Linked DNA regions of Homo sapiens. The protein of the gene in region 1 interacts with the protein of each later gene in a biochemical or structural test. Each region holds a gene or a part of one and is shown in the gene's direction. Other genes may lie near its edges. The genes, in order: STAT5A, ABL1 and ESR2.

What was found.
Region 2: of the proteins of STAT5A (region 1) and ABL1, one has a biochemical effect on the other in vitro, tested with the Homo sapiens proteins (one study listed by IntAct).
Region 3: the proteins of STAT5A (region 1) and ESR2 form a complex in vitro, tested with the Homo sapiens proteins (one study listed by BioGRID).

Annotation. Positions count from the first base shown.
Region 1 is NC_000017.11:42,298,490-42,302,137, forward strand, and holds part of STAT5A (signal transducer and activator of transcription 5A), read left to right. Parts: intron 1-1,261; coding exon 1,262-1,392; intron 1,393-1,640; coding exon 1,641-1,792; intron 1,793-2,225; coding exon 2,226-2,381; intron 2,382-2,785; coding exon 2,786-2,965; intron 2,966-3,648. UniProt on the Homo sapiens protein: Carries out a dual function: signal transduction and activation of transcription. Mediates cellular responses to the cytokine KITLG/SCF and other growth factors. Mediates cellular responses to ERBB4.
Region 2 is NC_000009.12:130,873,132-130,876,779, forward strand, and holds part of ABL1 (tyrosine-protein kinase ABL1), read left to right. Parts: intron 1-1,736; coding exon 1,737-1,921; intron 1,922-3,648. UniProt on the Homo sapiens protein: Non-receptor tyrosine-protein kinase that plays a role in many key processes linked to cell growth and survival such as cytoskeleton remodeling in response to extracellular stimuli, cell motility and adhesion, receptor endocytosis, autophagy, DNA damage response and apoptosis.
Region 3 is NC_000014.9:64,287,855-64,291,502, reverse strand, and holds part of ESR2 (estrogen receptor beta), read left to right. Parts: intron 1-3,648.

The DNA of each region.
Region 1 (3,648 bases):
TAGACAGAGTCTAGCTCTGTCGCCCAGGCTGGAGTGCAGTGGCCCAATCTCGGCTCACTGCAAGCTCCACCTTCTGGGTTCACGCCATTCTCCTGCCTCAGCCTCCCTAGTAGCTGGAACTACAGGCACCCGCCACCATGCCCGGCTAATTTTTTGTGTTTTTAGTAGAGATGGGGTTTCACTGTGTTAGCCAGGATGGTCTCTAGCCAGGATGGTCTCGATCACCTGACCTCGTGATCTGCCCGCCTCAGTCTCCCAAAGTGCTGGGATTACAGGCGTGAGCCACTGCGCCCAGCCCCATGATGGATACTTTTTAAAAGCTAGTGAGGCCTGACTTATTCCCTGTCCCGCCATCAATGAGACTCCTCACAGATGGTGTGGAGGGAAGCCGCCTCCCTTCGGCCTCCCTTTCCTGAGAGAATCTTGGTGGCTCTGCATCCCCAGTGGCCCTGGACACGCTCTCCCTCTGCGGTCTGTCTATCTGTCTGTCTCCCCTGGTTGGTCGGCTGGGCTCACAGTGAGCCCACCTGGACAAACATGCTGGGCCCCTTCCAGCCCCTCAAGAATCTCATCCTCCCCTGAGGAGGGACTGCTGTGCTCAGGGACGAGACAGAGCCGCCGGGGCTGGGGTTCCCTGAAGAGGCCTTGCTGCGGGAGGGATGGGGCCGAGCAGCTGCTTGTCTCTGTCACCTCTTCTCTCTGTCCTGTTCCCCGTTAACCAAGAAGCACGAACCTCACACAGAGCTCACCCATGTCAGGCAGCTTTCTGGCATCTTCCATGTCCTCATGTATTTAATCTTCAAGCACCCCACTGAGGCAGGTGCTGAGAATCTCCCGTTTTACACGTGGGGAAGCTGAGGCACAGGAAAGGAAAGCGATTTGCCCAGGTTCACCTGCAGTCAAGGGCATGGGCACACTTACACCCCAGACAGCCTGGACCCATGCTGGGACGCGAGAAGAGGGCTGGCAGCCCTGTGAGGCAGGCGGGCAGGAGGCAGGCAGGCCTCCTCCCCAGCTGCCCCAGCACCCGTGTGCCCCCAGAGGGGACGGCTCAGAGTCAGGAGGCTGGTGAGCAGGGCCCAGAGGCGCCTCCTGAGGCGCCATTCATCTTGGCCCCCCTGGCTGTCAGGAACCCCGACTTGCTCTTGATGCAGTGTCTGAGCCTGGGAGGGTCTCGCTCCAGAACAGGTGAGTGGGCTTCTCTAGGCCTCCTGTTGGACACTAGGAGGTGATGGTCATGGTTTCCTCTTCTCTCCTCTAGCTCAGTTTGCCCAGCTGGCCCAGCTGAGCCCCCAGGAGCGTCTGAGCCGGGAGACGGCCCTCCAGCAGAAGCAGGTGTCTCTGGAGGCCTGGTTGCAGCGTGAGGCACAGACACTGCAGCAGTACCGCGTGGTGAGTGGGGTCCTGGGCCTCTCCTGGGCGTGGGTGCCATGAAGTCAGTCTCTGGGGACCCGAGGGAGGGCTGGGACCAGCATGAGAGCAGAACCTGGGAGGGCAGGAGGCCTTTTTTCCTGGGGGCCTTGCGAGGCAGAGCAGCTTGGGGAGAGGGAACGGCCTGGGCCCTGCCCTGCCATTTCCCAGCGAGGCCCTGCGGTGTTCTCTGGGAGCCCAGAAGGGGCTGCTCTCCTCCCTTCCCTCAGGAGCTGGCCGAGAAGCACCAGAAGACCCTGCAGCTGCTGCGGAAGCAGCAGACCATCATCCTGGATGACGAGCTGATCCAGTGGAAGCGGCGGCAGCAGCTGGCCGGGAACGGCGGGCCCCCCGAGGGCAGCCTGGACGTGCTACAGTCCTGGTAATGGTGTGGGGCGGCCAGCGGGCAGGGCAGGAGGGGCTGGTGGGGACCCCGGCTGCTTCTGCGTCCTGTGCTGGCTCCTGCAGCAGGCCCCCTCCATCCTGGGACAGCTCTTGTTTCTCCAGGGAGCCTGGTTCCTCAATCAGACTTTGGTCCCCATCCTGTGCACCTCCCCCAGGAAGGGGGCTGCTGTCCTGGGGGTGGGATGGGGCTCGGGTGTGTGGGGTGATGCTTGGGCTGTTTGGGCCTAGTCAGGGTCGCCCCTCCTGTGTACGTCTCTAATTCTGGGAGGCAGGGAGCTCTGCTCTTCCCATGGGTGGGAAGTGTGGCGAAAGCACAGAGCCTTCCTGGGGGAACGGGAGCTGTGTCTTGGGGCCTGGCGTCTGTGAGGAGAAGCCATTGTCCTCCTGTTGGCCTTGGGGCTCTCGTGCAGGTGTGAGAAGTTGGCCGAGATCATCTGGCAGAACCGGCAGCAGATCCGCAGGGCTGAGCACCTCTGCCAGCAGCTGCCCATCCCCGGCCCAGTGGAGGAGATGCTGGCCGAGGTCAACGCCACCATCACGGACATTATCTCAGCCCTGGTGACCAGGTGACTGCTGCCTGTTTGCCATGCCCAGGAGCTTGGGGCAGCTCCTGCCTGCGTGGGGGGAGCTGCAGGTGCCTTCCAGACCAGCAGATCCACTTCCTGCCTCTCATCCCTCCCAACTCCATCTCCAGTTGCTGTGGCTGCTAGGTGCCGCCCTTGCCCAGTTTCTCCTGTGGACACTGCAAGAGATACCCTGGGCCGCAGCCCATGCCAGCTGCTGTGTTATCTCACTCCCCTCTCCATCCTCTCCCTGGACTCTCACAGCTTCCCCGGGAACAGAGGTTGTGCCCGAGCTCATCACCTCCTGAGCCCCATGGGAGGCAGCCCCACCCCCACCACAGAGGGACTGAGAGCCCTTTCCCCTGCGCCAACCCCTCATCGTGTGTCTGTCCCTGTGTCCCATGCAGCACATTCATCATTGAGAAGCAGCCTCCTCAGGTCCTGAAGACCCAGACCAAGTTTGCAGCCACCGTACGCCTGCTGGTGGGCGGGAAGCTGAACGTGCACATGAATCCCCCCCAGGTGAAGGCCACCATCATCAGTGAGCAGCAGGCCAAGTCTCTGCTTAAAAATGAGAACACCCGCAAGTAATTGTGCCTCTCCCTTCCCCTGCCCAAGCTTAGGTGTGGGGGACCTGCACCCCCCGCTTTGTCCTTGCATCCAGCTATGTCTTGTCCCCTAGTTCACCGTGTTGCCCAGGCTGGTCTCGAACTCCTGGACTCATGCAGTCTTCCCACCTCAGCCTCCCAAAGTGCTGAGTTGATAGGCGTGAGCCACCACACCCAGCCGAGTATCCGTTCTTTACCCTGGGGATGGTGTGGCTGCCGGAGAGCTGAGGCTCACTGCCACTGCCCAGCATTGTGAGAGACTATCACACCACTTTCTCCTGAAAGTGTATTGCTTCACACCATTGTAAATTCAAACAATCATGTCAAACCATCATTAAATCTGGGACAGATGGTACACTGCCTTCCTCCTACTCAGATGCCTTCCCTGTCCCTGCAACAAGCTTGGTGCTAGGCTAGATGCCGTGGCTTACCCCTGTAATCCCAGCACTTTGGGAGGCCACGGTCGGAGGATCACTTGAGCCCAAAAGTTTGAGTTGGACAATATAGGGAGACCCTCATCGCTACAAAAAGTTTTAAAATTAGCTGGGCATGGTGGTGCACGCACTTGTAGTCCCAGCTACTCGGGAAGCTGAGGTGGTAGGATCATTTGAGCCTAGGAATTTGATACTACAGTGAGGTATGATTGTGCCATGGCACTCTAC
Region 2 (3,648 bases), on another chromosome or scaffold:
CGCAGCTTCTAACCTCAGTGCTGGCAACACATTGGACCTTGGAACAAAGGCAAACACTAGGCTCCTGGCAAAGCCAGCTTTGGGCATGCATCCAGGGCTAAATTCAGCCAGGCCTAGACTCTGGACCAGTGGAGCAGCTAATCCCCGGAGTAAGGAATATTTCATTTTTGAACCATTTTGGGCTAAGTGGAATATTAAATGAAGTTCATAAAAGGCGTCCTTCCTAATAATCACAGTCCCCTCTGAAAGAGAGTACTCATTGTTCCTCCGGGGCCAGCGCCCAGCAGTAATGGCCTCTTCCTGGGAGCCGCTGGCATTGCTTTTACGCAAACTCATGGGAACAACCAGTACATGGCTTTTGTTTTTTAGTGTGTGTGTCTTTTTTTCCTGCTTTCTCTTTATTATCTTTTCATTCTCCACTTAACTTGCTGTCCTCTGATTCAGGGATGTTTCCACAATTGTCAGAATTGTGTATGTGGAGGTCTAAATTAAGTGTCTTTGCTGTTTTAAACCCTGAAGTGTTTTGACCTTCAAATGTGCCACAATTATCTTGGTCTTCAAATTCTTTGCTGGTGGAAATGGCTTCCCAGCAAAGCGACGGCCTGTGCAGGACAGAGCCTGATGGGCTTTGCTGGCGTCTTTTATACGAGATGTTCTCCACACCACCACTGTGACCTTTCCTACCCAATTAGCTCAAGTATGAAACCTCTACATGAGATTTCATAGCAAGGAATAAGGGTAGCATGTGTGAAATGCTGGCGGCTCCTTGTAAGACAGATTTTCTATGCTCCATGAGAGCCTGATCCAGATACTCCTGGCTTTCAGGAAAGTGAATCCTCTGATGCTGCAAATTGAGATTGCTTGACTTCTGGTTTGCCTGGCACGGCCGGGTCCGTTCCTTCTTCATTCAAGCGAACTTAAAATGCTTTATCAAAATCCTCTTAGGCACAACTCTTCTGTATTTAATTTCACTCTTGTTGCTGACGATCAGGCTATCTCACGCAGCCATCACCTCAAGCTGCTGCCCCCTCTCATTCCGCTCTTCCCGTTTGCCTTGTGATTTCATGGTTAATGTTCATGAACCAAAGATTAGACTCCTACCTCCCTGGGAGAATCAGGAAGTGAGAGGAAGCAGATTATACAGGAGAGAGTTTTTTAGGATACATTTGGGTACACCTCAGGAAGAAAGAGGGAAGTAGGAAACACAGTTTGGGTAAAGAATGCCATGGGCTTTGTTTTATTTTGTCCCATCAAGTCTGAATAGGACAAGTGGAGATGCACTCTGATAGAAGTTTCTTGCAATCAAGGACTGGGCTCAGTGTTTGTCTCCGTGCCTGGCATAGAGTAGCAATAACTGCACTTACTATTCTCGACACTTCAATCAAAGCACTTAGCATATTAATTAATTACACTCACAGCAACCCTAAGAGGTAGGTGCCATTATTATCGTCTTCATTTTACGGATGAGGTAACTGAGTCCCAGGGTAATTAACTTGCTCCAGGTCATGAGGCCAGGGAGCCCGCTCCCAGCACCAGCCTCTCCCCATGTTGGGATCTCAGGGTGTGTTTGCTGAGAGGCTGGCACTGTGTTAATTGCCGTGGGCATTAATACAAACTTCCAGGGCATTGGACTCAATCTTTCCATTGTCAGCATTGCACCTTTGCTCAGCAGTGGTGGATTTGTGAAGTGGAAGGTTGGCCAGGAGCTCTCATGGGTGAACATTTTCCTTTCTTAGAGATCTTGCTGCCCGAAACTGCCTGGTAGGGGAGAACCACTTGGTGAAGGTAGCTGATTTTGGCCTGAGCAGGTTGATGACAGGGGACACCTACACAGCCCATGCTGGAGCCAAGTTCCCCATCAAATGGACTGCACCCGAGAGCCTGGCCTACAACAAGTTCTCCATCAAGTCCGACGTCTGGGGTAAGGGCTGCTGCTGCACTGAAGTGGTCCTTCCTGACTACAGGAGGGTTTTTTTCTGCCTCTTTCTTGCTCTTCCCTTTCTTTTCTTCCTTTCTTTTTGTTTTTTTGAGACGGAGTCTCACTCTGTCACCCAGGCTGGAGTGCAGTGGTGCAATCTTGGCTCATTGCAGCCTCTCCCTCCCGGGTTCAAGCGATTCTCCTGTCTCAGCATCTTGAGTAGCTGGGATTATAGGCACCCGCCACCACACCCAGCTAATTTTTGGTATTTTTAGTAGAGATGGGGTTTCACCATGTTGGCCAGGCTGGTCTAGAACTCCTGACCTCAGGTGATCTGCCTGCCTTGGCCTCCCAAAGTGCTGGGATTACAGGTGTGAGCCACTGTGCACAGCCACCCTTTTTTTTTTTTTTTTAACTGTGTATTTGGCCTGAGGTCCAAATATGGTGCACAGTGTATCTGCTGATCTGTTAAGTCTCCTCTATAAGCCCCCTCTCCATGTCTTTATTTCCCTTGCTGTTTATTGAAGAAACCATCCTTAGAGTTTCGTACGTTCTGGGTTTTGCTCATTGTCTCCCATGGTGTGATTTAATATGTTCCTCTGACTTCAGTATTCCTAGTAATGGGTGGCTGGATCTGGAACGGCCTCATCACATTCAGGTTTGACTGTTTCTCTTTTAGTAAGAGTGGATCAGGGGAGATGGTGTGCCCTTCCATCAGTAGATACAAAATGCTTCATTTATTTCCTTCCTTCCTTTCCTCCCCTCTCCCTCCCCTCCTCTCTTCTCCTTCTCCTTCCGACGGAGTTTCGCTCTTGTTGCCCAGGCTGGAGTGCAGTGGCACGATCTTGGCTCACTGCAACCTCTGCCTTCTGGTTTCAAGCGATTCTCCTGCCTCAGCCTCCTGAGTAGCTGGGATTATAGGCGCATGCCACCACCCCCGGCTAATTTTTGTATTTTTAGTAGAGACGGGGTTTTACCATGTTGGCCAGGATGGTCTCCAACTCCTGACTTCGTGATCCACCCACCTCGGCCTCCCAAAGTGCTGGGATTACAGGCGTGAGCCACCACGCCTGGCCCCAAAATGCTTGATTTGCTATCGTTTTTTTGTGGGGGTTTTTTTTTGAGTAATTTTTGGCAGTTACTGATATACAGTGCCTAGATCCAATAGTTTGCTAGGTATTGCCAGGTAGGAATTCTCTAATTCTGTCATTCCTGTTAAGTTACTAGTGGAAACTTGTATGAGGAGAAACAGTTCCTCATCTGTGTGGTTACTCAGTGGTACAGTTCATGTAGGAAGAGCAGGGTCAATTCTTGCTTCTTTGTTTTTATTTACCAGTTTTTAAAATAACAAATTACTTTTTCTTTTTTTTTTTTGGAGCCAGAGTCTTGCTTTTTCTGGGGTACAAAGTACAGGCTGGAGTTCAGTAGCATGATCTCGGCTCACTGCAACCTCCGCCTACCAGATTCAAGCAATTCTTCTGCCTCAGCCTCCCAAGTAGCTGGGATTACAGGTGCCTGCCACCACGCCTGGCTAAATTTTTTTGTATTTTTAGTAAAGATGGGGTTTCACCATGTTGCCCAGGCTGGCCTTGAACTTCTGAGCTCAGGCAGTCCACCTGCCTTGGCCTCCCAAAGTGCTGGGATTACAGGCGTGAGCCACCATGCCCTGCCACAAGTTGGTTTCTTTTTTTTTTTTTTTTTTTTTTTGAGACAGTCTCACTCTGTCGCCC
Region 3 (3,648 bases), on another chromosome or scaffold:
AAACAGCCTGTATTTTAAATATGTAACTTACCTTGCATACCCAGTTACAGTGGTAGTAACTAGGATATGCAGAGTGGCAAGTTTATGAGGAGCTAGCAAACTGGATAGTTGGCCTTCCTAGCTGGAATTATGACAGGTCTTGAAAATGAAGGGCTTTTAGTGGAGAATCTTTGTGTGGGTGTACTTGAGAGAGGGCAGGAGAGTTAGGGTGACCTAGAAAGATAGATTGCTGGACTTGTATATGTTTCCTCAAAGCCAGACTGCAGCATTTTGTTAGTAAATTGTTGTGTGTTCTACTGTCAAACCCAGGCCTGGAAGGGGAGTTGAGTGCATTCAGCCTAACTTCTGGATTGGCTGTGTCATCTTGAATCCCTTCACTCGGAATTCTCTCTGACCCTGTCCCAAATGAATATTTGAATTTGGTCCAGTTCCTACAGAGCATGGTCTGTGGCTGTTGTTGGTGTTAGGGAAGAGCAGAAACTTGCTGTTGAGAGAGAAGACACTTGAGAAGACTGATGAACTCTCTCCCACCCCTGCCTTCGAGGCTTGGTCCTCCTACCCTATTCAAACCCTTGAAACTCTTTCCTATCCAACTAAATAAGCGCCAATTGGTTACTAGGAGAATTAGCTTTTCCTCATTTTAGAAGGAAACAGGGTTTCCTTATGTACATGTTCTTAAGAATTACATGCAAATCAGTTATTAATGATGAGTTCTCTGGTGATTTTGGAGTGTTTTATCTTCCTAATATTAAATTAATTGAGGGCCTTAATATTTTGTTTTGAAAGAATATATTTAAAAAGGCTGGGTGTGGTGGCTCACGCCTGTAATCTCAGCACTTTGGGAGGCCTAGGTGGCTGGATCACTTGAGGGCAGGAGTTCAAGACCAGCCTGGCCAAATAATGAAACCTTGTCTCTGTTAAGAATACAAAAAATTAGCTGGCCATGGTGGCTCAAGCCTGTAGTCCCAGCTACTCAGGAGGCTGAGGCATGAGAATTGCTTGAACCTGGGAGGCCGAGTTTACAGTGAGCCGCGATCATGCCACTGCATTCCAGCCTGGGCAACAAAGCAAAACTCTATCTCTAAATAAATAAATAAATAAATAAATAAGAATACATTTAAAGATAATAATTGGCCAGGTGTGGTGGTTCATGCCTGTGATCACAGCACTTTGGGAGGCCGAGGTGGGAGGATTGCTTGAGGCAAGGAGTTCAAGATCAATCTGGGCAACACAGTGAGACCCTATCTCTACAAAAATTTAAAAATCAGCTGGGCATGATGGTGCATGCCTTTAGTCCCAGCTACTTGGGGGGCTGAGTTTGGAGGATCCCTTGAGCCCAGGAGATCAAGGCTGCAGTAGGCCATGATCTTGCCACTACACTCTAGCCTGAGTTACAGAGCTAGAGTATAACCCCCACCCCCCAAAAAAGCTAATAATTGTCAAACAGCTACTTATGCACATCAAGGATGCTTGTTGCTTAAGAAATCTTTTTAAATCTTTTCCATGAAATTCCTTCTAGTTGCTGCTTTGTGAGCGTGAATTTTTTACTTCTGCAGGACACACAAATGTGGAGCATTTGAACTGAATGCTTGGGAAAGTGTGATGGGCAGGTGGAAGAAGAATAGGGATGAGGACTTATCCTCTATTCTTATCCTCCTAGACTTATCCTCCTAGTCTGCAAGCTTGAGAATATGGCATCAGGAATATGTGGCATTTTGTCCACACACACAGTGTTGGCAGGCTACCAGCAGCCCAGCTATCTGGACTAGGGGTGATGGATTTCTGTGGACAGAAGTCAAAAAGTAAAATTAGGAGGCAAAAATCTTCAGGGTGGCCATAAAGACATTGTAACTTGTCTGGAAATTCCAACCAACACTAAATGTGTATCCAGTGATATACCAATAGACTGGCTTCATCTTCTTGGATGTGTAATAATACCTTACAGAATGCTTTCTTTTTTTTTTTCTTTTTCTTTTTCTTTATTTTTTTTGAAATGAAGTTTTGCTCTTGTTGCCCAGGCTGGAGTGTAATGGCACAATCTCAGCTCACTGCAACCTCCACCTCCCAGGTTCAAGCGATTGTCCTGCCTCATCCTCCCGAGTAGCTGGGATTACAGGCATGTGCCACCATGCCCGGCTAATTTTGTATTTTTAGTAGAGACGGGGTTTCTCCATGTTGGTTAGGCTGGTCTCAAACTCCCGACCTCAGGTGATCTGCCCACCTTGGCCTCCCAAAGTGCTGGGGTTACAGGCGTGAGCCACTGCGCCCGGCCTCAGAATCCTTTCACAGACATCATCTCATTTCACCCTCAGAGCACCGTGAAAAGGTACAGCACCAAATAGGTACCTGATTCTACTGAAGAAGATGTGGCAGCTCAGGGAGTTTGTGGATTTGTCTAAGATTGCCTGGCTTTCAGGCAGAGCTGGGGCTAGAATGAATGTTCTGCTCTATCCATTGATAGAATATACATAAGAACAGGCTTGATGGTGGCTGACCTTTTTTTTTTTTTTTTTTTTGAGACAGAGTTTTGCTCTTGTCACCTAGGTTGGAGTGCAGTGGCGTGATCTCGGCTCACCGCAACCTCCACCTCCTGGGTTCAAGCGATTCTCCTGCCTCAGCCTTCTGAGTAGCTGGGTTTACAGGCAAGCGCTGCCACACCCGGCTAATTTTGTATTTTTAGTAGAGACTGGGTTTCTCCATGTTGGCCAGGCTGGTCCCGAACTCCTGATTTCAGGTGATCTGCCCACCTTGGCCTCTCAAAGTGCTGGGATTACAGGCATGAGCCACCCGCGCCCGGGTGACTGATTTCTTATTAACTAGATTTACAGGTGCTTTGATAAAAACCAGTCTAGTCTTGGCTGGCACGGTGGCTCATGCCTGTAATCCCAGCACTTTGGGAGCCCAAGGCGGGCGGGTCACGAGGTCAAGAGATCAAGACCATCCTGGCTAACATGGTGAAACCCCGTCTCTACTAAAAAATAGAAAAAATTAGCTGGGCATGGTGGCGGGCACCTGTAGTCCCAGCTACTTGAGAGGCTGAGGCAGGAGAATGGCTGAACCCGGGAGGTGGAGCTTGCAGTGAGCCAAGATTGCACCACTGCACTCCAGCCTGGGCAACAGAGCAAGACTCCATCTCAAAAAAAAAAAAAAAAAAGTGTAGTCTTTTTGGAGTGTTTTTCTGCCATTTCTAGGGCCAAACTTTTTCTTGTCCATGAATCATTGTCAAAATTGGGAATTTTAAATACTACTTTTTTCTTTTAATTCAAAAGCCATAGTATGTTTCCCAGCCAGTACATTAGAACACCATGCACGATCCCATGTGTACAAAAAGCTTTCTGGCTGAATTCAGATGTGACCTGAGAGGGCCAAATACAGGGGTGTGTGCTGGGAGAGAGAGAGAGGTCTCTGGACAGAAAACAAAGCCTGTTCACCACCCAGGATATGGACCAACTATTTTAGGTTATGGTGACTAAAGAAAATTGACATGCAAATAAATGAATAATTCTTAGAATCAGGATGTCTGGGTACTGGTTCTTTGGTTGGCCAGGTGAAATTCCATGCCAGGCCCAACAATTAAACTCTTTAGAGACAATTTTTTCCTGTTGTACCAGAACATTGTACTGAGGCCATGTTTGAACATTCAATCGA